Linked DNA regions of Homo sapiens. The protein of the gene in region 1 interacts with the protein of each later gene in a biochemical or structural test. Each region holds a gene or a part of one and is shown in the gene's direction. Other genes may lie near its edges.

Region 1 (4,747 bases):
GCCCTTAGCCAGGCCTCTCCTGCCCCAGGAGGACATCTCACGGCTGCGGCGCAAGCTGGAAAAGCAGAGGAAGGTGGAGGTCTACGCAGATGCCGACGAAATCCTCCAGGAGGAGATCAAGGAGTACAAGGTGGGGCTGTGGGCCAAGTTGTGCCCTATCCACCTGAGAATTGTAGATGCAGGATTGCTGAGACTAGTGGAGAGTCTGGGGACCCTGGAAGTAATGTAGGGCAGCAGAAAGTGGGCAGCACAGTGGTCACAGAGTCAAATGCTGTTTGCTGTACATGTACTGTGAGCCAGGCACAGTGCTTGGCTGGGTGTGGGTTGGGAGGCTAGGAACTGGCCCTGGTCTCTGACTTCTTGAAACTGACAGTCAGGGGAGGAGGCAGCCAAGTAATTCTCTCATCCCAGATGTGTAATATGATGGCAGAGGCCAGAGGGGCTGAGGGGACTCAGGGGAGGCCCTTCCCCTGGCCCTGGGGTCAGCAGGCTTCCTGGAGTGAATGTCACCACAGCAGACCTGAAGAATAGGCCAGACGTGGCTGTGAGGAACGGGAGTGAGTAGCTTTAGGCAAAGGGAACAGCAGATGTGGACGCTTGAGCGGAGGGGTTGCTGGGACAGCACCGGAGGTTGTAATCAGAGGAGCCAATGTGGAGAGGTTGGGCCGTGTCACCTCCTGAAGAGTGCGGTACGCCAGGTTGAGACCTCAAAGGGTTTTAAACAGGAGAGTGATGTGGTTAGATTTGTTGTTGGTTTTGGGCTGGAAGAGGTAGACTGGAGGCAGGGAAATTGTTAAGGTATTGCAGTCACTGAGGCAGAAACCAGAGTAGATGGGTTCAGGAGACATTTCAGAGGCAGAATTGCTTGGACTCGGGGGTGGATCGAATGCATGGAGTGAGGGAAAGGGAACACTTGGAGGACTCCTGGTTTCCTGGTTTGAGAAACTAGGTGGATAGTTAGTACCATTTAGGGGGTTAGGAGGCCTGCGGGGGAGCAGGTTCTATGGGATGGTGTCAAAGGATGCTGAGAAGGTGCCTGTGGGACCCCTTTGGGAGGCTGGGAAGGTGCTCAAGGCAAAAGGGCCGGGCTGGAGAACAGGCTTGGGGAATGTCAGTAGAGGCAGAGGTGGAAGCCACATATGACTTGGTCATCCCTTGGAAGCAGTTGAGCCTTGAAGGGCAGAGGCAGCTGGAGGCAGCCATGGGGTAGAGGCAGGCTTGGGAGCCTGTTCAGTGCTGGTGTGTAGGGTCCTGGGAGACAGGAGTGATGGCAGGGAGGCTGCTGAGGCGGCAGGCTGGGCTGGGATTTTAGCAGGCTGGAGGAGCACTGTTGGGGGATGCTGAGTTGAGTCAATCCATGTCTGGAGTTGGAGGTGAGACCCTCCTGGTGGCGGAAGAGAGGTCTCAGGCTAAGAAGGGACCCACGGCAGGGTCTCTGGCCAGTGTCGAGGCTGGGCCCAGTTGAGGGTAGAGAGAACAGATTTCTAGTTGCATTGCCATTCCAGCTGTGACTTAGCAAGTGCAGGTGAAGAGGTAGACAAGATTGGGATTTCACCAGAGGCGGCCAGTGGGGCAGGAGATGAAGCCCCAAGGCAGAGTCCAGGCTGGGCCTGTGGGTCCTTGTCCTTTTGAGGGGACACATGATAGCCATCACTGCCCAGTGATGAATCCGGACTCTGCTGATTTCTAGTGTTGAGACCTTGGCCTCTGCACCTCAGTTTGCTCATTCATAGAGTGCTCGTCCTTACCTCCAGGGTTATGGGAGGATGAGGTGCAGTCTCCAGTGTGGTGGGCTTGGCCTGGACTCCTCCTGCTGTCAGCTTGGGGTCTGGGCACTGTCAGAGTTGTTCCCAAGCTGATGCCTTTGCCTGGCCCAGGCGCGGTTGACCTGCCCCTGCTGTAACACCCGCAAGAAGGATGCAGTCCTTACCAAGTGCTTCCACGTTTTCTGCTTCGAGTGCGTGCGGGGCCGCTATGAGGCCCGCCAGAGGAAGTGCCCCAAGTGCAACGCGGCCTTTGGTGCCCACGACTTCCATCGTATCTACATCAGCTGAACCTGAAACTCAGGGGACTCTGGAACACCATGGACCCTGGGGGCTGTGCCCCCATCTCCTCCCCACCCCAGGTCTAGTGGCCCCACCCTCCATTCCGGACCCCATGGGCCCAGCCCCTGCCCATCTAGTTGGTTTGGGGACCCTGGTGCATGCTAGTGGGCATGGGATCAGCCAAGCTTCGTTCCATCTTTTCCTAAAGGTCAGAGCTGCAGCCTAGGGGGCACTGCCCTACAGAAAAGGTCTGCCTGAGAGGCCTGAGGAGCCCAGAGCACTTGACTGAGCTTCCCGGAAACTGGCCCTAACCTGTCTGTCTCCGTGGATGCATCCTAACCCTAAGGAAAATTCCCCAGGCTGTGATCTACCCTAGAGAAGGCTCGCTCCCTGCCTACTGGCTCACAAATGAGGACCAGTGAGCCATGTCCTTGTTCCTTGTTTGAGACTGGGCTGCAGGCCCCAGGAAGACTTTCCTTCACCCACCATCCCCCTAACCTCGGCAGGGCTTCTGTCCTGTGGAGTTCCCTGGACACCTTGGTCTGGCTCTTGTGCCAAGGGCTGAAGGAGGTACCCTCTTGGCAGATGGGGGCATCACTTGCTTCCTTTGGGAAGCTCTAAGGTTGCTGCAGTCACCTTCCTCATCTTGCAGGTGCTGAACCAACATCATCAGTTTCTATTCTAATCAGGCCCCTTCCCAATCTCCATTTCTCTGCCAAGCCCATTTACCCCCACCTCATGCATCCCAAGGCTCTACTGGGTCCCTGGACCTAACCCTGCTTTCATCCTGGTGGCCTTAACTACAGTGGAGGTGGAACTTCCCAGGAGGGGAAGGGACAGACCAGCCCCAGCCGCTGGGCCAACTTCCAATCATTCCAGCTAGAAGAGCTTCCCCCTGACACCCTGTGACTGAGCCTGTGTCCTGTCTGCCTGCCCAGCCATGCTCCATCGGCTGTGAGGGCAGTGCCCGGAGAGGCCAGAGGGTTGGAGCTGCAGGGACCCGTTTGGACCCACAGCCTCTGTTCTAGAGATGCTTGTATAGGCTGTTAATTGTGATGAATAAACGTTCAACCCTCGGCCTGCAGCCAGAGTAGCCAGGCCGCGCACCCCAAATGTAGTCCCCCGATTTTAGCTGCAGCAGCTGAGCAGCACTTTGCTGGCTTGGTGTGAGCCTGGGAGGGCTCAGACTTAACGGCCGGCAGGGATCCCGGACTGGGCCTGAAGGGGAGAGCGTGGTGGTCGTCGCGGAGCCGCCTGTCCTGCTCCCACCGACCCCGGTCTGACCACGTCCTTGGCTGTCATGGCCGGGGGATGCCGGGACTCCTCGGGCTGCATCCTGGGAAGTGTAGTTCCTGGTCCGCACATGGTTAGGAGGTTCTCGGAGAGAGAGCTAGTTTCCCGGTTGCGCTGGCCAAAGGCCGGCCTGAACTGGATCCTGCGGACCGCTTCTCAGCGGCTTCACCCCCACACCACTCGAATGCACAGATCGGGACACCTCAGCTGGGTGACTTCCCTCGTTGCAATCGGCCTCGGGAGCGGTGCGGCGTGTACCGAGCGGCGCCCCTGGGCTCAGCGCGCTGCAGGCGCCCCGGGCGGATCCTTCACCGAGGCAGGACTGGGGCTGGCGCCAGAGCCGGTGCGGAGCGGTGTTGGTTCAGGCGCTGGCGACAGTGCTATGGCCACGGCAGGGGCCGCGTGCGTCTCAGCGGTGGCGCCTTCGGACCCTATTGGCGCCCGGGACTTAAGCGGGGCCGCCGCTGCTGGACCAGGACGAACTGGAGAAGGAGACGCGGGCCGCCACGGTGACCTCGGGCGTAGGGCCGGCGGCGGCGGGCACGCTGGTGGAAGCGCGGGCCGCGGCAGGGGAGGACATCGGGCCGCAGAGAAAGTGCCGATGGCCTGGGGCAGCGGTGCGAGGGTGGGAAAAACGCAGGATATTGCATCATAGAGACGCGGCCACCTTCGCCCCTGGAGAGCGCCAGTCTCAGGAGCGCCGCACCGGTCACGGGTGGAGGTCAGCCAGGCCTCCGTAAGCGCGGTCCCCTTCCAGGAGTAGCCTTCGCCTGGGCTCTTGAGTAGATGCCAAGTAATTCCGCATCGTCTCTCTAGATATCTGCGCTAAAGGCCACCCGGTCTCCTTATCAGAGGGGCAAAACTCTCCTCGTGGGTCTTCATACCTAATAAAAGTCGGCATCAAACCACTTTTTCAAGGTCAAGTCCAAGGGAACGGGGTGAAGATCCCACAATGTCAGTGAGGCAGCAACCACTGATGTGGTGGCAGGAACCAAACCTTTTTTTTTTTTTTTTTTTTTTGAGACGGAGTCTCACTCTGTCTCCCAGGCTGGAGTGCAGTGGCACGATCTCGGCTCACTGCAACCTCTACTTCCCGGGTTCAAGCGATTCTCCTGCCTCAGTCTCCCGAGTAGCTGGGACTGCAGGCGTGCACCACTGCGCCCAGCTAATTTTTGTATTTTTAGAGACAGGGTTTCACCATGTTGGTCAGGCTGGTCTCAAACTCCTGACATCATGATCTGCCTGCCTCGGCCTCCCAAAGTGCTGGGATTACAGGCGTGAGCCACTGTGTCCGGCCAGGAACCAAACTCTTAATAAACATTTCCCATGAGGCTCCGGTGCCGGGAGGATTTGCCTTAATTTTTTGACTGCTTACCACCCCTAGTGGTCCCAGTGGCAGCGGTACCCTG
Region 2 (7,261 bases), on another chromosome or scaffold:
CAGTGAAAGTGGCAGAGCTTCATTCTAGGAGATCCAAGGGAAAGCTTTGCTTTGAAACATTTATTCTAGGCTGCAAATCCACAACCCTAGTTGGCCTTCCATTAAAGTCACTAATTCAGCAGTCCCATATTCAATATGCATTACTGTTAATATGTTGCACCATCTCCATTCCCCTGAGAGCTTATATTTTTAATTTTTAAATTTTTATTTTTAGAGACAGTGTCTCACTCTGTCACCTACTTATTATAACCTCAAACTCCTCGGCCCAAGCAGTCCTCTCACCTTAGCCTCCCAAGTTGCCAGGACTACAGGCATGCACCACCATGTCCAGCTAATTTTTAAATTTTTTGTAGAGACAGGGTTTTCTATGTTGGCCAGATTGGTATTGAACTCCTGGCTTCCACGATACCCCGTCTCAGCCTCCCAAAGAACTGGGATTACAGATGTGAGCCACTGCACCTGGCCAGAGAGCTTATATTCTTATAGGAATGGGAAGACTGCCTATGTTATGTGTTGCTACATAATACATTACCCCCAAACTTAGTGACTTAAAACAAACGCTTATTATCTCCATTTCTGTGGGTCAATAATCTAGGCATGACTTAGCTGGGCCAGAGTTTCTCCAAAGTCTGTGATCAAGGTGTCAGTTGGGCTGGGCCTGCAGTCATCTCAAGGCTCCACTAGAGGAGCATTCACTGGCAGACTTATTCAAATGGCTGTTGGCTGATCCTCGATGGCTATTGGCCCCTCTATTGGTTTCTTGCCCTTGGGCCCCTCCATAGTACTGCTTGCTATTCACAACATGGCAGCTTGCTTTGCCCAGAGCAGGGACTCTGAGGGAGGCAGGGAAATAAAGAGCAAGAGAGAGGTCACAGTCTTATTGTAATCTAATTCTGGAAATGACAGCCCATTACTTTTGGCATATTATTTTGGTTAGAAGCAAGACAACAGTAGATCTAGCCCACACACGAGGGGAGGAGGATCACACAAGGAGGTGAATACCAGGAGGTGGGGTCATTGGGAGCCATCTGAGAGGCTGCCCACCACACTGCCTCAAGTAACTAGGGAGAGGTAAAAGTTTATATGCCAGATGACCAAATATTAAAATGTGTGTTACAAATAGTTCACGATGGGCTCAGCTGTCAGACTTTACAAAGGAGCTATGGGACCTTATAAGGACAGTTGGAACTGGCTAGGTATCACATAGTGGTCTTCAAACATTTTTGCTTGCCATAACCTCTAAAATAATTGGGAAAAAGTTGAATGTACTTCCATATCTTAAAGCTGATAATTTAAAATATTATACATTTAATAGCAGCACGGGATTTAGTTTTTGTTAAATTGTATATGTGCTCCAAATAGATTTACCATCAAAACCTGTTTTGAATTTAATATTGGGAGAATTCGCTAGTTTAATTTTTGGAAAATAAAGTATAATTGGCAAAGCTAATCCTCACTGTTGAATCTATCCGTCAAATCAGATATAATTTCTATCAGAAAGTCTATATGACTTGTCAACATAATACCCATAAAGTGAATCAAAAATTATTATTCATTGAACACATCATCTCTTATCAAATTCTTGTGACCTTCCTTCTGGTTGTATAATAGCCTAAAAAACAAAAAAAGGACAAAAGCAAGTTTCCAGAAAGCTGTTCTGACTTGCCTACTTCTGAAAAGTAGTCCTGTATGGTGGGTTCTGAAAATGAGGAACCAGGACTTGCAGAGTAGGCAGTTGCTGGAGGAAGAATGTGAGCTGCATGGGAAAAGACAGGAGGATTTACAAAGAGTGGGTGTTTAATTGGGGATGGAATTAGGTAGTTATTCTGATTTTTAGATTTTTCATATCTTTTATTTGGTCCAATGAAGCAGAAAATTTAAATGAAGTTATTACCTTTGCCTGATTTTTGACACACCTCAAACTATAACTTGAGGTTGCTAACTATGAAACACTGGCATTTAATGATTTAAAGTAAAGAATTCTGTAATTTGTAGACTTCTGAGAAGTTCCAGAAAATAAATCAGATGGTATGTAACAGCGACCGTGTGCTCAAAAGAAGTGCTGAAGGAAGCAACCCTCCTAAACCACTGAAAAAACTACGCTTTGATATTGAAGGATCAGATGAAGCAGATGGAAGGTAGGAACCAGTTTTGAATGTTTTCCAGTAGCCGAGATGGTCATCTGGGGAATCCAGAGTCTCAGCACTGCTCCTGGCTTATACCAATTTCTTTCATGCCAAGTTTATTTGGAAGTTGTGAGAATGGCTCAAAATAATAGATATGAGTGTAGTGCAAAGTTAAAAACATCTTACAAATTGCATACCAACATTCAGTGAAGATATCTAATAAACCCTGATCTTTTTTACAAAGCTATTGATAAAATTTTGTTATTCTTAACATTAAATTTAAAAATGTTTACTCTTGAAAAATATTAACCACTGTATTTTGTGAGAACCACTGAAAAAATACATAGCATCATAAATTTGTGACATTTATGTTTTAGATGGTTAGTTTTTAAATTTTAAAATTAAAAGCTACTCACTAAAATAATAGCATAAAGTAAGTCATCGAAAGCATCATAGTTACTGGAAATTTGAGTTTTCCATTTATAAATACACATGAAATGTTTTGCATTTTTTTAATCTGCAGTAAACATCTCCCAGGAGAGTCCAAATTTCAGCAGAAACTGGCAGAAATGAGTAAGTACTTTTTTCACCTTGTGTAAATGAAATAAACAATTGTTTACACTGCAAGAAGTCTTTTCGTTATATAAAAGAATGTATAATTTCTTCAGTTGGCAGGTTTGTTTATGCATTTAAAATATAATTCAATCAAGGTTATTTATCTACAAACATTTGTGGATTAAATGTATGATGTAAAATGAAGGTCATTTTTACCCTTTCTATGATCTTTCATGCAGGAAGACTAAGAAGTGAAACATTGCTTGACCACATTCAACACAAATGGCTACAGTTAGAAAATACTTTAGCAGAACTACAAAGAGGAGCTATTTGGGAGTGTTAGATATAGGGAAAAGTTTTATAAACCTAGCATATGTAAACATCATCACCCTTATTTAAGGAATAACCTTTGATTCTACCATTTTTAAACTTTCCTTATTTGCAAATCTTAAAACAATTTCAAACAAAAGTTTCCATTACTGGAAATCAGAATTTTAATAAAGAACACTTATGTCATTTTCCAAGTTATACAGAGTGATATCATGTTAGGGTAAGTGGAATTCTATTCAAAACTACTCTGAGACTAGACAAAAAAAATAATCCAAGGATAGTAGATGGAAAGCACATTAGGAAAGAGATAAATGTTCACTAACTACTATTGGGTTGTCTTAGGTAGTTATGGTAGTGAGTGTAACATTTCCCAGTATCTGCTGCCAGATCCATTGATAGGAAAAGGAACTGGGATTTTGAAAGAAGACAAATATTCAGGAGATAGGTGTTAAAACAATCATTCCTAGGTCACAGGACACACTAATGAGAACAATACCAATTAAAATGAGAGGCTTTCTTTTAATACATCTTTGTAGATACTAACTTTGAAAATAAGATATTTAAAAGGATGCTTTTTTTCTATGTATTTTTTTAAAGTGTAATTAAAACTAAATAACTAAAACAAAATTTTCTAGTTATAAATGAATCTCTTTTTGGATTTTATGTCAACTTACATATTCCTATTTTAACTCTTAAATAGTTGCATCTTTTCCCCTCAGTACATGAAAATAGACAAGAGGCTCATAACCAAAATCAGGCCTTGAAGACATATGGAAACATTTTGGAACCCACAAATATGCACTTAAAAAGGAGCTGAAAGCTGTAAAAACATGTATATTTTCTTAGAGAAGTGTTCAGTTGCTATAGTTAGTACATTTCCCAGTGACACACTTAGCTATGATGGCGAGCTTCCTCTGCCAGGCCAAAGTTCAGGACCTTTGTGCATCTACAAAATTGTGACAAAGCAGGCAGAATTTTAACCCCTGAGGCTAAGGCATTTCTTTAGGATGCTCTTCAGCTTTTCTTAAAGAATTACATTTAGAAAAGATCATCATACAATGCTGGATTGCCCAGAATGGAAGGGCATTCCATTTTTCCAAATGTGCTTCTTTATAAAGAACTCATGCCTACCTCTAAAATCAAGTTAAGAATTTTTAAGAAATTTAATAAGTATCCCGGCTTTGTCTATATTGTAATTCATAATATGCTTTTAACATGGCCATGCCCCGGGTAGGCATGATGGCTTATGTCTGTAATACCAGCACTATGGGAGGGCAAGGTGAGAGGATTGCTTGAGGCCAGGAGTTCAAGACCAGCCTGGGCAACATAGCAAGACCCCATCTTTACAAAAAAATCCAAAAATTAGCCAGGCCTGGTGGCATGTGCCTGTAGTCTTGGCTACTGGAGAGGCTGAGGTGAGAGAATTGCTTGAGCCCAGAAGGTCAAAGCTGTAGTGAGCCATGATCATGCCACTGCACTCCAGCTTGGGCAACAGAGCAAGACCTTGTCTCAAAAAAAAAAAATCCATGCCCAGTTTAAATGAGCTATGATTTGATGTATTTGCAGTACCTGCAAGGCATCTGCAAACATAAGGGAACCTATAGCTTTGTAAAGAATACCACCACTCACTCTGGCAGATTCAGTCTGGGCCAGCCGAGTATTCTAGTCTGCTGAAGTATATGCCAAGCATCAACCACCTCATCTCTAGAATAGTGGCCTACAAAATGGGGCATACCTGAAGTATGCAAAGTCATCTTTTGGGGTACATAAAGTAGAAGTTCTATTTATCTCATTTTAATGTTTGCTTGGGGTATGTGTTTTATAATTTGTACATACATACGTATTTTTGTGGTACAGGCTTGGAAAAAAATTTACTCACAGGGATATATGATTTTTAAAGATTTGGAGACCACTGTTTTTTTGGGGGGTGGGGAGGGAATTTTTTTTTTAATTGATATATCATAGTTATACATATTTTAGGGGTACATGTGATGTTTTGATACGTGTACACAATGTGTAATGATCAAATCAGGGTTATTGGGATATATATCACCTCAAACATTTTTCTTTGCATTGGGAACATTACAATTCTAGCTATTTTGAAATATGCAGTAAATTAACTGTAACTCCCTACGGTACTGTCAAATACTAGAATGAAGACCACTGCTTTTGCAAGGTCCTGAGCGCCATCAGTTTGACATGAGCATAATATATATGGCAGCCACTTGCCAACTTACCCAGTACCATCAATGCTGTTAACAGTTCTTCATCCTTTTTCCAGCTTCTACTCGAACACGAATGCAAAAGCAGAAAATGAATGATAGCATGGATACCTCAAACAAGGAAGAGAAATGAGGATCTCAGGACCTTGGTGGACACTGTGTACACCTCTGGATTCATTGTCTCTCACAGATGTGACTGTATAACTTTCCCAGGTTCTGTTTATGGCCACATTTAATATCTTCAGCTCTTTTTGTGGATATAAAATGTGCAGATGCAATTGTTTGGGTGATTCCTAAGCCACTTGAAATGTTAGTCATTGTTATTTATACAAGATTGAAAATCTTGTGTAAATCCTGCCATTTAAAAAGTTGTAGCAGATTGTTTCCTCTTCCAAAGTAAAATTGCTGTGCTTTATGGATAGTAAGAATGGCCCTAGAGTGGGAGTCCTGATAACCCAGGCCTGTCTGACTACTTTGCCTTCTTTTGTAGCATATAGGTGATGTTTGCTCTTGTTTTTATTAATTTATATGTATATTTTTTTAATTTAACATGAACACCCTTAGAAAATGTGTCCTATCTATCTTCCAAATGCAATTTGATTGACTGCCCATTCACCAAAATTATCCTGAACTCTTCTGCAAAAATGGATATTATTAGAAATTAGAAAAAAATTACTAATTTTACACATTAGATTTTATTTTACTATTGGAATCTGATATACTGTGTGCTTGTTTTATAAAATTTTGCTTTTAATTAAATAAAAGCTGGAAGCAAAGTATAACCATATGATACTATCATACTACTGAAACAGATTTCATACCTCAGAATGTAAAAGAACTTACTGATTATTTTCTTCATCCAACTTATGTTTTTAAATGAGGATTATTGATAGTACTCTTGGTTTTTATACCATTCAGATCACTGAATTTATAAAGTACCCATCTAGTACTTGAAAAAGTAAAGTGTTCTGCCAGATCTTAGGTATAGAGGACCCTAACACAGTATATCCCAAGTGCACTTTCTAATGTTTCTGGGTCCTGAAGAATTAAGATACAAATTAATTTTACTCCATAAACAGACTGTTAATTATAGGAGCCTTAATTTTTTTTTCATAGAGATTTGTCTAATTGCATCTCAAAATTATTCTGCCCTCCTTAATTTGGGAAGGTTTGTGTTTTCTCTGGAATGGTACATGTCTTCCATGTATCTTTTGAACTGGCAATTGTCTATTTATCTTTTATTTTTTTAAGTCAGTATGGTCTAACACTGGCATGTTCAAAGCCACATTATTTCTAGTCCAAAATTACAAGTAATCAAGGGTCATTATGGGTTAGGCATTAATGTTTCTATCTGATTTTGTGCAAAAGCTTCAAATTAAAACAGCTGCATTAGAAAAAGAGGCGCTTCTCCCCTCCCCTACACCTAAAGGTGTATTTAAACTATCTTGTGTGATTAACTTATTTAGAGATGCTGTAACTTAAAATAGGGGATATTTAAGGTAGCTTCAGCTAGCTTTTAGGAAAATCACTTTGTCTAACTCAGAATTATTTTTAAAAAGAAATCTGGTCTTGTTAGAAAACAAAATTTTATTTTGTGCTCATTTAAGTTTCAAACTTACTATTTTGACAGTTATTTTGATAACAATGACACTAGAAAACTTGACTCCATTTCATCATTGTTTCTGCATGAATATCATACAAATCAGTTAGTTTTTAGGTCAAGGGCTTACTATTTCTGGGTCTTTTGCTACTAAGTTCACATTAGAATTAGTGCCAGAATTTTAGGAACTTCAGAGATCGTGTATTGAGATTTCTTAAATAATGCTTCAGATATTATTGCTTTATTGCTTTTTTGTATTGGTTAAAACTGTACATTTAAAATTGCTATGTTACTATTTTCTACAATTAATAGTTTGTCTATTTTAAAATAAATTAGTTGTTAAGAGTCTTAATGGTCTGATGTTGTGTTCTTTGTATTAAGTACACTAATGTTCTCTTTTCTGTCTAGGAGAAGATAGATAGAAGATA
Region 3 (7,261 bases), on another chromosome or scaffold:
TTCCTCGTTTTACTCTGTTTTATGCTGGGCACAGCTTTATTAATAGTACATCACTTTGCTGGGGATTGGCTACCTAAATATTTCAAGGGTGCTTCTCTTAAGTGGTATGAATTGAAAAGGTACTTACAGAGTCCATTATCTACCAGGACTGTCACCTTTGACATTACTGGTTCTATTTTTGATGATGTGTATCTCCATCCTAGCATTACTGAAAGGAATTACTCAGGCTGATTTGTTCTGTTGAACAGTCTGCTACCGATGGATGCTTCCTCAGGTGTCTGGAACACTGTGGCCTGTGGTTCCCCCACAAAAAAAATTTTAGCTTTTTTTTTTTTTTTTTTTTTTGAGATGGAGTTTTGCTCTTGTCACCCAGGCTGGAGTGCAGTGGCACGAGCTCAGCTCACTGCAGCCTCTGCCTCCCAGGTTCAAGCAATTCTTCTGCCTCAGCCTCCCAAGTAGCTGGGATTGCAGGCACCTACCACCATGCCCAGCTAATTTTTGTATTTTTTAGTAAAGAGGGGGTTTCACTATGTTGGGCAGGCTGGTCTCGAACTCCTGACCTGAGGTGATCCGCCCACCTCGGCCTCCCAAAGTGCTATGATTACAGGCATGAGCAGCCGTGCCCAGCCTTAACCATTTTTTGAATACCCTTTATTTATAGTTGGGGAATTTACAGTTAGAGAAAAGACTGATTAGGGATAAGTGGCATAGTTGATTTTGCTGTTTCCAATGTATTATGTTATTAATTAAGAACCCCAAAACTACTTTTGCTTCTTTGTTGTAAACCGTTCGTTATGGAAGTTTCTGGAACAACCAGGTCCTAGTTAGAGTGATGAAATCTTAAGACAAGCAACACTTAAGGGTATTTTGGTTTAACTTCACACACTCGAAGTAAGAGGAATATATTCTCAAGAGCTTACACTACCAAAACATTGGGGAGAAATGCTTCCTCATCAGAATATCTTGGTATACATGCTAAATACAAAGGTTATGGAATATAATCTTCATCACATAATCTAAAAATTGTTAATAGACATGGTAAGGTACTGGTATTTGCTTTTCATAATAGATGTGTTCTTTAGAATTGGGGTATAAATCGTTTTTATTTTTTTTTAATTTTTGGAAATGTTTCTGAGTCATAAAATCTTTTTCAAAATGAATCTCTAAAGTCCACTAAGAGTGTTTTAAATATAAATAAATCCTATGATGAAGAGTTTTGGATATTACTTGAAAAATCGATTTTCAGTCATCAAAAATAATTTTGAAGTTATATGTATTTTGCTTTCTTCTCAGGGGTCACAAACTGGTGGCCAAATGGCAGAAAACACCTGCAGGTGTGTTTTCTTTGGCCAACACAGTATTTTCCAAAACTTGACTTTGTGAGTGTCTTTAGGCAGAACATATACCCCCTCTAGTTCAACCATATCACTCCTTATTGCCATACACCAGTCACTTAACACGTTTATGTAATTTTGGTGGTCTCCCTGTATAGATGGATTAATTGATACTTTCCTTACGATGTCTTAGCCTCCTCGGGAAGATGAACAAAATTAGTATACATTATGTACAACAATGGTGAGGCTTAAATTTTCAGTTATTTTAAAGCCTAGCCTTCTAAATATTCAGAGGGTAAGCTGTAGTCTCAAGACTGCATAATACTAATTCTGGGATTTTAAATTCCCTTAACATTTGTTTTAGAGCTTAGAAATTACATTGAAGGTTATACTAAACAGGTTCTGATTAGTGTGACTAAAAGTGTGAAGTTTTTACCCTCTTTTTAATGTGTACCTTGAATAAGATTTGGGTTGTCTTAATTTATATTCAAGTAGACATAAATAGGTTGCTTCACTTCTCAAGATATTAAGTGAACTGTTTTAAAAGACTTGCGATTAACTTCTTTGGTAGCTAGGTAATCACTTAGTTGAACTTCTGGGCAAGTGTATGCAGAAAGCTCAAGTCAAGGAACTTGTGAGCCACCAATATAGGTACTCAACTTGCTTTGAACTGTGAGTGTTTGATGTAGACCTAAAAGTACTGTTTAATATCTGAATGCCTTAATTGTATATTTCTTACTGATAGTTCTGATTTTTGGGTTTTGCCTCCTTCAGCTGAGTCTAGAGATGTGAAACTTTAGAATTATTATAGCAAAAATAGTTGCTCATGGTTTTGGAGCACTTAACTTTGTGGAACTATGCATATTCCTCTCATTTAAACCTCACAACAATGCTATATGGTGGGTACTATGATTAATCTCATTTTACAAATGAGGAACTTAAGGTTTAGTCAAGGAGAACACCTTCCCCAAAGTCTCACAGCTAGTAAGTACCAAAGCAAGGACTTGGGCCCAGACCTGTCTGACTGCAGAGCTCATGCTCTTAGCAGTGTGTTTTACTGTTTTTGCTTATGGCTTCCCTATGTCTTGCTTTACTACCTTTAGATACCATATTTAGTGATGGTTTTGAAGTAGCTGGGATCTCCATGTGCTATTACATCTGCCCAGTTTTAGAGCAGTGTCTCTTACCCATAATTTAGTCAGATTGCAACATTGATCCAAATGTGTTTACACTTGAGATCATAATACATAAGGAAACTCAAAGTTTTGAACTCTAACACATTCCCACTTTTTCTTGCATATTATAGTGTCAATAAATACTGAAAAGGAAGAACTGTGCTTTCTTCCTCAGAAAGAGGAAGATTTATGACCAGGTGGTGATAAAGGTGAAGTATGTTCTGATGGACATACTTCCATACTTCTAATGGGCATATGTTTGTCCATTCCATAAGATTTTACTTTCTTAGTTATAATACATAGTATCTTCAGGTCTGGCTTTGAAAAGAAAATAGGGAGTAACAATAATTTGAGGAATATAATGTCTCTGTATGTTGCATTTTATATTATTTTGAAGCTTTGAGACACTTGTTCATAGTAAGGGCAGCTTTGTTAGCAAATTGTTTCCAATGAGCTTGCTAAAAACAAACTTTTTGATACTGTTTTGTCACAGATCTAGTCCTAGAATGATTATAGTCTTCTCTCTTTCTTAAGCAGTGATAAACCTTTTAATGAGAACAAAAAGGAAATAAATTGCTAACTCTGAAGGAACCAGTAAGAAATACACTGAAGTATGGTCTGTTGTTTTAGAATAATTTGTTAAATGGACCAGAGTAATATAGTGGAACATGCATCACCTTATACCATATAGTAACTGATTCTTCTAAGTTTACTTGAACAGATTTCAGTCAGGAAAAAACATTGCTCAATTGTGTTCTTCAATTTATTCAACAAACAATTGAAAATAATATTTTAAAGGACATAATCTCTTCATATCACATCTTAACAATTCTTGAATGAGATCCAGTTTGTCCATGCCTTGTAAGTAAGTTTATAACCTACTATGCTTTAGGGCCTCCTGCTACCTTAGGTTGACATATATTTAAGAAAAATAATTTCATTTCAATAGTAGCATAAACATTAGAAAAATAAATTTGCTGGAAACATGAATGCAATCTAAACCAAATGTGATTTTAAAATTATTTCTGCCATTAATTCCCTCCATATGTGTGAATAATTGAGTTGATTTTATAGTGAAGTACCTTATGAGCCATACTTAAGGGTTTCTGAGAGGGACTATGAAGTTTTTCCTGGCTTAAATTCAATTAAGTTTTCATTATAGGGTCACTATGACATGAAAAGGAACCAGTATGAACACTTTTATACTTATTCCCTTCTATTTTAAAAATAACTTGATTATGGATTTGTATTCTGGCATTGGTTTTTGAACCATTGTGCTTTCATTCTTTCTAGTCTGTCTAAAAATCACTGGAGCGTTTAAGATGGCAGCTGACTAACATAGGCCTTTGAGGTCTTTTGGTCTTCTAAAGGAAGAAGGCCAAATTTTGGGCCCAGTTTCTTAAGGATGTTTTCAAAATGTACAGTGGCTAAAATCTTGTAAGCAGTAATTTTGTGTTTATGATGGCTGTCTCCAAGTTTGGGGGAAAATAATGGCAAAACAAAAAATCACATTTGAGTAGTTCTTAGAGCAATTCCTAGAGATGTATTTCTTACCTGGCCTTTCCTCTCTACCCTGTATCTTTGCATTATTTAATACTTGGAAAAACCCACATAGCATTAAAAACAAAGTACTACTGAACAAAGTGATAAATACATTTTCTTAAATCTTTCTTTTCTAACCACAGGAACATTTAAACTTACAATAGAATTCACTGAAGAATATCCAAATAAACCACCTACAGTTAGATTTGTCTCTAAGATGTTCCATCCAAATGGCAAGTATCACTTTTAGTACAGTGTTTTAAACTACTATAGTGTTTATTATGGAGTATTCCACATTTCCTGTGTATTTTGTGGTGCCTGAGTATTTGTTTAGGCAGCTTGCTGCTTCTTGAAAGCTGAACTTGTTCTTGGTTGTCTGTGGCTGTCTTGTCCTAGAACTGAAGCAGTGGAGGTATTTTCCCTTTGCTTGGAGTCTGGGAGCCTCCTGATTTTGATGACCTTTGTCATTTACTTATTAAACAAAATGAAGGATGCTCTTGAGGTTTCCTTTTAATGCTAGGCCAGATTGGGATAGTCTTGTGTTGTAATTATTTTCACTAGCGTTTAGAAAAGTAGTTTTCATTGGACGCATATCAGAATTACTGTGGAACATTTTAAAAACACAGATGCCTTCGCCCCACTCCAAACCTAATGAATAGGATTCTGTTGTTGAAGGCCAGGCATACGGTATTGTCAGAAAAGCACCACAGGTGATTCTAACTTAACCACTTTGCACTTTTTAAAATAGTAGTAAGCCTAGAACAGCTTGCCTTTTATTTAGGTTAATGAAGTATTTTTCAGGGTATCAGATATGTTTATCTTTATGCCAAAATGAAATCTTGTGAACTCTGAGTGATCTTTTGTTATTTCAGATAGGGGATACAGCCTACAAATTTGGTGGAATGAATTTCCCACATGTCTGTGGATAGCTAGGGACCCTGTTCAAAAATGTTTCTGATTTCCTGGATAATAGGGCAGCCTTTTCCAAAGGATGAACACTAAATATCTTCCAGTTTTATACTGATCACATCTGACATTCTCTGATCATCCTGATTATTTCACTAGTGGTGGTTATGACTTATCTTTTTAGGCAGTTAACTGGGAAGCAACATAGGAATCTTTAAACTTCAAAAGCAAAGTATTCTTGACTATTTTTGTTTTGTCTATAATGTTAAAACCTTAGTGGTCTTGTTACGTTTAATGTACCTACTTCTTTGTTCTTAGTCTATGCAGATGGTAGTATATGTCTGGACATACTTCAGAACCGTTGGAGTCCAACCTATGATGTGTCTTCCATTCTAACATCCATACAGGTGAATTTTTCCTTAATGTGACGAACTATAACTTTTAATATGTTTATATTAGCAATTGAATTGTTTTTGAAAGTCATAATGTAATAGATCTTTTTATTTTTGGTCAAAGCTTGTTTGTTTTATAGATGAAAAGTAGACCATTAAGACCCAAGTCAGCTGGGTACAGTCGCTCACACCTGTAACCTCAGCACTTTGGCAGGCCAAGGTGGGAGGATTGCTTGAGTTCAGGAGTTTGAGACCAGCCTGGGCAACATAGTGAGACTCTTCTCCCTTAAAAAAAAAAAAAGCCGCATATATTTTCCTAGCTACTAGCAGATTCACATAACTCTGGGTTTGTATGCTAAAGACAAGAAATGTAGCTGTACTTAGGACAATTCAATTGAGTGTCACTACCTTATAAAATAGTTGTTTTGCATTAAGGAACTGACATTTTAAAAATTGTCTCTTTAGTCTCTGTTGGATGAACCCAATCCCAATAGTCCAGCAAACAGCCAGGCTGCTCAGCTGTACCAGGAGAACAAACGGGAATATGAAAAGCGTGTTTCTGCAATAGTAGAACAAAGCTGGCGTGATTGTTGACCCCGGGTACAGTTTAAAGAAGCTGGCCATAAGAAAAATATATATTGATGTGTTTGTCACCTCCCTACTCCTGTCATTACATTTACTTTATTAAAAGCAAAATAACTGTTGTGCTGTTTCCATCTTCCTTGCCAAGTTTTCCTACCCCTTCTACCCTCTCCTTAAACATCAGAAAACACCCTCTATGAAATCAAATGTACTGTACCTGGGTTACTTGCAAAAATTACTAATGCTTCAGTTTTTCTGTTGTATTTCATTTCCAGTTTTCAGGCAGTTATTTTTATTATTGTACTTTAAGCTTTTAAGATGAATTGTTATACAAGAGGTGCTTATGCTTAGCTTGATGACCAGGATGTTATTTTTAACAAAATGATTGCTGAAGTGTTTCATCCTGGCTGGTCCTTCACTTGTGTTGGATTTAGAAGTGAATGTGTTTGGAATATGGCCTACAGAGAATAGAAACAAATCCATGTAAACAATTTTGAAGGAGGCATGGGAGCTAAAAATCCTGTGATACTAAGATCTCAGTCATATGAATTACAACGTAGTATTTACTGGCAAGAAGGAGAAAGTTGAAGGACTCAGCTAAAGGAGTACAGCAATTGTAGTAACTGACACATCCTCTCTTTGCAAGCTGCTGACTGGGCACACTCATGCCAAGTTTCAGAATTATTGGTCTTCTGGGTTTTTGCTTTTTAAAAGAGGTGTGGGAGCAGAGGAATGGAAACAATCGTGAGTTTTTGAGCTAGGGAAAGTTGGAGCTCCTTTAATCTTTTTAAAGGATCAGTGCTGCCCTAAGTGAATAAACTCAATTGTCCATCTTTATTTTAGAGTTTTAATGAATTCAAGGAAGGGAGCATAGCATATCTGTGGCAAACTATTTTCCACTCAAATCCTGAGTTATTGCTGCATGCTTTAATTTCTTCCCTTTCAGCATCTGAGAACCTTAAAGCCAATGTCTGCGATCTTTTTTTGGATATTTATACTTTTAGATATATAGTACCTTTAAGTAGCAGTATGGGACAAGGCTTGTAAATGTTTTGTCTAATGTTCTATTGTCACCTTTTATGCATTTATCACTTCCAAATCTAACTTTGCACAAGTAACCCATGTAAAAAAAAATGTACATTTTTCAAAAGTTGTAAATAAAAATAACCTTAAAATTTCATAGTCAAGGTATCTTTTTTTTTTTTTTTTTAGCTCAGTATAAACTTTTTGTATTGGTTTCTTATTGGGATCTCATATGTACTCATTTCCCCCCTCAAACATTAAGGTAAAAGCAAAAATACTCATTCTGGGAGGGGAAAAGACAAGACAG
Region 4 (3,797 bases), on another chromosome or scaffold:
ATGCCATTGCACTCCAGCCTGGGTGACAAGAGCGAAACTCCATCTCAAAAAAAAAAAAAAAAAAACAGAAACGTATTTGGATTTTTCCTAGTAAGATCACTCAGTGTTACTAAATAATGAAGTTGTTATGGAGAACAAATTTCAAAGACACAGTTAGTGTAGTTACTATTTTTTTAAGTGTGTATTAAAACTTCTCATTCTATTCTCTTTATCTTTTAAGCCCTTCTGTACTGTCCATGTATGTTATCTTTCTGTGATAACTTCATAGATTGCCTTCTAGTTCATGAATTCTCTTGTCAGATGTATATAATCTCTTTTACCCTATCCATTGGGCTTCTTCTTTCAGAAATTGTTTTTCATTTCTAATTATGCATCATTTTTCAGATCTCTGTTTCTTGATGTCATTTTTAATGTTTTTTTAATGTTTTTTATGTCACTAATTATTTTAAATGTCTGTACTTGATAGACACTGTAATAGTTCTATTAAATTTAGTTCCTGCTGTTTATATCTGTTGATTTTTGTATTTGATAGGCTGTTCATCCAGTTTTGTCTTTTTGAAAAGTGAGTTTATTTTCAGCAAGGCTTTATCTATGGGAATCTTGAGTGTCTGTTTATGTCATATTCCCAGGGCTGTTGCTGCACACAAGCCCATTCTTATTTTAATTTCTTGGCTTTAGGGTTTCCATACCTGAAGTGTAGCATAAATACTGATAGGAGATTTCCCAGGCCAAGGCAAACACACTTCCTCCTCATCTCCTTGTGCTAGTGGGCAGAATATTTGATTGATGCCTTTTTCACTGAGAGTATAAGCTTCCATGTGTCCCACCTTTATGGCAGGGGTGGAAGGAGGTACATTTAATTCCCACTGCCTGCCTTTGGCAAGCCCTGGGTTCTTTGCTCCCCATATAGATGTCTAAGCTAAAAGCCGTGGGTTAATGAGACTGGCAAATTGTTCCAGGACAGCTACAGCATCAGCTCACATATTCACCTCTCTGGTTTTTCATTCCCCTCATTTTTTTCTGAGACAGAGTCTTGCTCTGTCACCCAGGCTGGAGTGCAGTGGCATGATCTCAGCTCACTGAAACCTCTGCCTCCTGGGTTCAAGCAATTCTCCTGCCTCAGCCTCCCGAGTAGCTGGGACTACAGGCGTGTGCCAACACGCCCGGCTAATTTTTTGTATTTTTATTAGAGACGGAGTTTCACCGTGTTAGCCAGGATGGTCTCGATCGCTTGACCTCGTGATCCACCCTCCTCGGCCTCCCAAAGTGCTGGGATTACAGGTGTGAGCCACCGCGCCCGGCCTCATTCCCCTCATTTTTGACCGTAAGGATTTCCCCTTTCTTGTAAGTTCTGCTATGTATTTAAAAGAATGTTTTCTACATTTTATCCAGCATTTCTCTGTGTTCTGTTGGAAGGGAAGGGCTTAGGTATCTAGTTTGATACATAGGTAGAAGTGGAACATTTCTCTGTCCCCCAGCTGTCATCATATAAGATAAACATCAGATAAAAAGCCACCTGAAAGTAAAACTACTGACTCGTGTATTAGTGAGTATAATCTCTTCTCCATCCTTAGGAAAATGTTCATCCCAGCTGCGGAGATTAACAAATGGGTGATTGAGCTTTCTCCTCGTATTTGGACCTTGAAGGTTATATAAATTTTTTTCTTATGAAGAGTTGGCATTTCTTTTTATTGCCAATGGCAGGCACTCATTCATATTTGATCTCCTCACCTTCCCCTCCCCTAAAACCAATCTCCAGAACTTTTTGGACTATAAATTTCTTGGTTTGACTTCTGGAGAACTGTTCAGAATATTACTTTGCATTTCAAATTACAAACTTACCTTGGTGTATCTTTTTCTTACAAGCTGCCTAAATGAATATTTGGTATATATTGGTAGTTTTATTACTATAGTAAATCAAGGAAATGCAGTAAACTTAAAATGTCTTTAAGAAAGCCCTGAAATCTTCATGGGTGAAATTAGAAATTATCAACTAGATAATAGTATAGATAAATGAATTTGTAGCTAATTCTTGCTAGTTGTTGCATCCAGAGAGCTTTGAATAACATCATTAATCTACTCTTTAGCCTTGCATGGTATGCTATGAGGCTCCTGTTCTGTTCAAGTATTCTAATCAATGGCTTTGAAAAGTTTATCAAATTTACATACAGATCACAAGCCTAGGAGAAATAACTAATTCACAGATGACAGAATTAAGATTATAAAAGATTTTTTTTTTGTAATTTTAGTAGAGACAGGGTTGCCATTGTATTCCAGCCTTGGCGACAGAGCAAGACTCTGCCTCAAAAAAAAAAAAAAAAAGGTTTTGGCAAGCTGGAACTCTTTCTGCAAATGACTAAGATAGAAAACTGCCAAGGACAAATGAGGAGTAGTTAGATTTTGAAAATATTAATCATAGAATAGTTGTTGTATGCTAAGTCACTGACCCATATTATGTACAGCATTTCTGATCTTTACTTTGCAAGATTAGTGATACTATCCCAATACACTGCTGGAGAAATCAGAATTTGGAGAAATAAGTTGTCCAAGGCAAGAAGATAGTAAATTATAAGTACAAGTGTAATATGGACAGTATCTAACTTGAAAAGATTTCAGGCGAAAAGAATCTGGGGTTTGCCAGTCAGTTGCTCAAAAGGTCAATGAAAACCAAATAGTGAAGCTATCAGAGAAGCTAATAAATTATAGACTGCTTGAACAGTTGTGTCCAGATTAAGGGAGATAATAGCTTTCCCACCCTACTTTGTGCAGGTCATACCTCCCCAAAGTGTTTACCTAATCAGTAGGTTCACAAACTCTTGGTCATTATAGTATATGCCTAAAATGTATGCACTTAGGAATGCTAAAAATTTAAATATGGTCTAAAGCAAATAAAAGCAAAGAGGAAAAACTTTGGACAGCGTAAAGACTAGAATAGTCTTTTAAAAAGAAAGCCAGTATATTGGTTTGAAATATAGAGATGTGTCCCAATTTCAAGTATTTTAATTGCACCTTAATGAAATTATCTATTTTCTATAGATTTTAGTACTATTGAATGTATTACTTTACTGTTACCTGAATTTATTATAAAGTGTTTTTGAATAAATAATTCTAAAAGCATATACTAAGACTCATTCACTTTATTCAAATATTTGTGTGTTCTGTGTGCCAGGCATGGGACTCGTTCTAAGGAGAAAGCAGTGAGCAAGGCAGGCATAGTCTGCCTATATAAAGCTCCCAATCTGAGGAGGATAGGCAACTGACCACGCAGTGTGAACCGGGGAGCCTATTGCACAACCAGTCTGATAATGCTGCATCTCAGTCTAAATATCCTAGTAGTGTTTCTTAGTCGCCTCCTGACGAAAAGGCAAATATGAATGTTCTTTCTTTGGGCCTAGAAAGTGATCTAGTTGACATTTCTAGCCTAAAAGATCTGTACTAGAATATGACAAGTGCAAAGATCCTGGTATCCTAAATGCAAAGTTTTTTACCTGTTTATCATATTTTTAAAATAAATTCAGTCCTCTGGAGTTTTAGTCTCTTTTGCCTAGATTTTAACAAAATGCATTTTGCATAAATATAGTGGAGTCAAAGTTTCCACAAAGATTATAATGACTCAGAATTTGGTAAGTAAGGAGATCTCATAATAGACATTATCCTCTGAAAAATCCCTTTGCCATTAAAAGTACAGCATACACAGTTTTATGTACAACAGTATGTAGAAATATATACTTTCATTGTGTATGATCCAAAAGCAGTGGTTCTTAACCAGGGGTGATTTTGCTGCCTCACTTGATATT

Evidence for each region.
Region 2: the proteins of RNF40 (region 1) and RB1 form a complex in vitro, tested with the Homo sapiens proteins (one study listed by BioGRID).
Region 3: the proteins of RNF40 (region 1) and UBE2A form a complex in vitro, tested with the Homo sapiens proteins (3 studies listed by BioGRID).
Region 4: of the proteins of RNF40 (region 1) and ATM, one has a biochemical effect on the other in vitro, tested with the Homo sapiens proteins (one study listed by BioGRID).

What each region holds. Positions count from the first base shown.
Region 1 is NC_000016.10:30,772,061-30,776,807, forward strand, and holds the end of RNF40 (E3 ubiquitin-protein ligase BRE1B), read left to right. Parts: intron 1-28; coding exon 29-130; intron 131-1,877; coding exon 1,878-2,054; 3' UTR 2,055-4,247; downstream 4,248-4,747.
Region 2 is NC_000013.11:48,474,706-48,481,966, forward strand, and holds the end of RB1 (retinoblastoma-associated protein), read left to right. Parts: intron 1-1,744; exon of another isoform or gene 1,745-1,817; intron 1,818-1,995; coding exon 1,996-2,138; intron 2,139-2,649; coding exon 2,650-2,699; intron 2,700-5,273; coding exon of another isoform or gene 5,274-5,292; coding exon 5,293-5,366; 3' UTR 5,367-7,185; downstream 7,186-7,261. UniProt on the Homo sapiens protein: Tumor suppressor that is a key regulator of the G1/S transition of the cell cycle. The hypophosphorylated form binds transcription regulators of the E2F family, preventing transcription of E2F-responsive genes.
Region 3 is NC_000023.11:119,577,313-119,584,573, forward strand, and holds the end of UBE2A (ubiquitin-conjugating enzyme E2 A), read left to right. Parts: intron 1-4,194; coding exon 4,195-4,284; intron 4,285-5,275; coding exon 5,276-5,364; intron 5,365-5,814; coding exon 5,815-5,943; 3' UTR 5,944-7,111; downstream 7,112-7,261. UniProt on the Homo sapiens protein: E2 ubiquitin-conjugating enzyme that accepts ubiquitin from the ubiquitin-activating enzyme E1 and transfers it to a E3 ubiquitin-protein ligase. In vitro catalyzes 'Lys-11', as well as 'Lys-48'-linked polyubiquitination.
Region 4 is NC_000011.10:108,365,984-108,369,780, forward strand, and holds the end of ATM (serine-protein kinase ATM), read left to right. Parts: 3' UTR 1-3,119; downstream 3,120-3,797.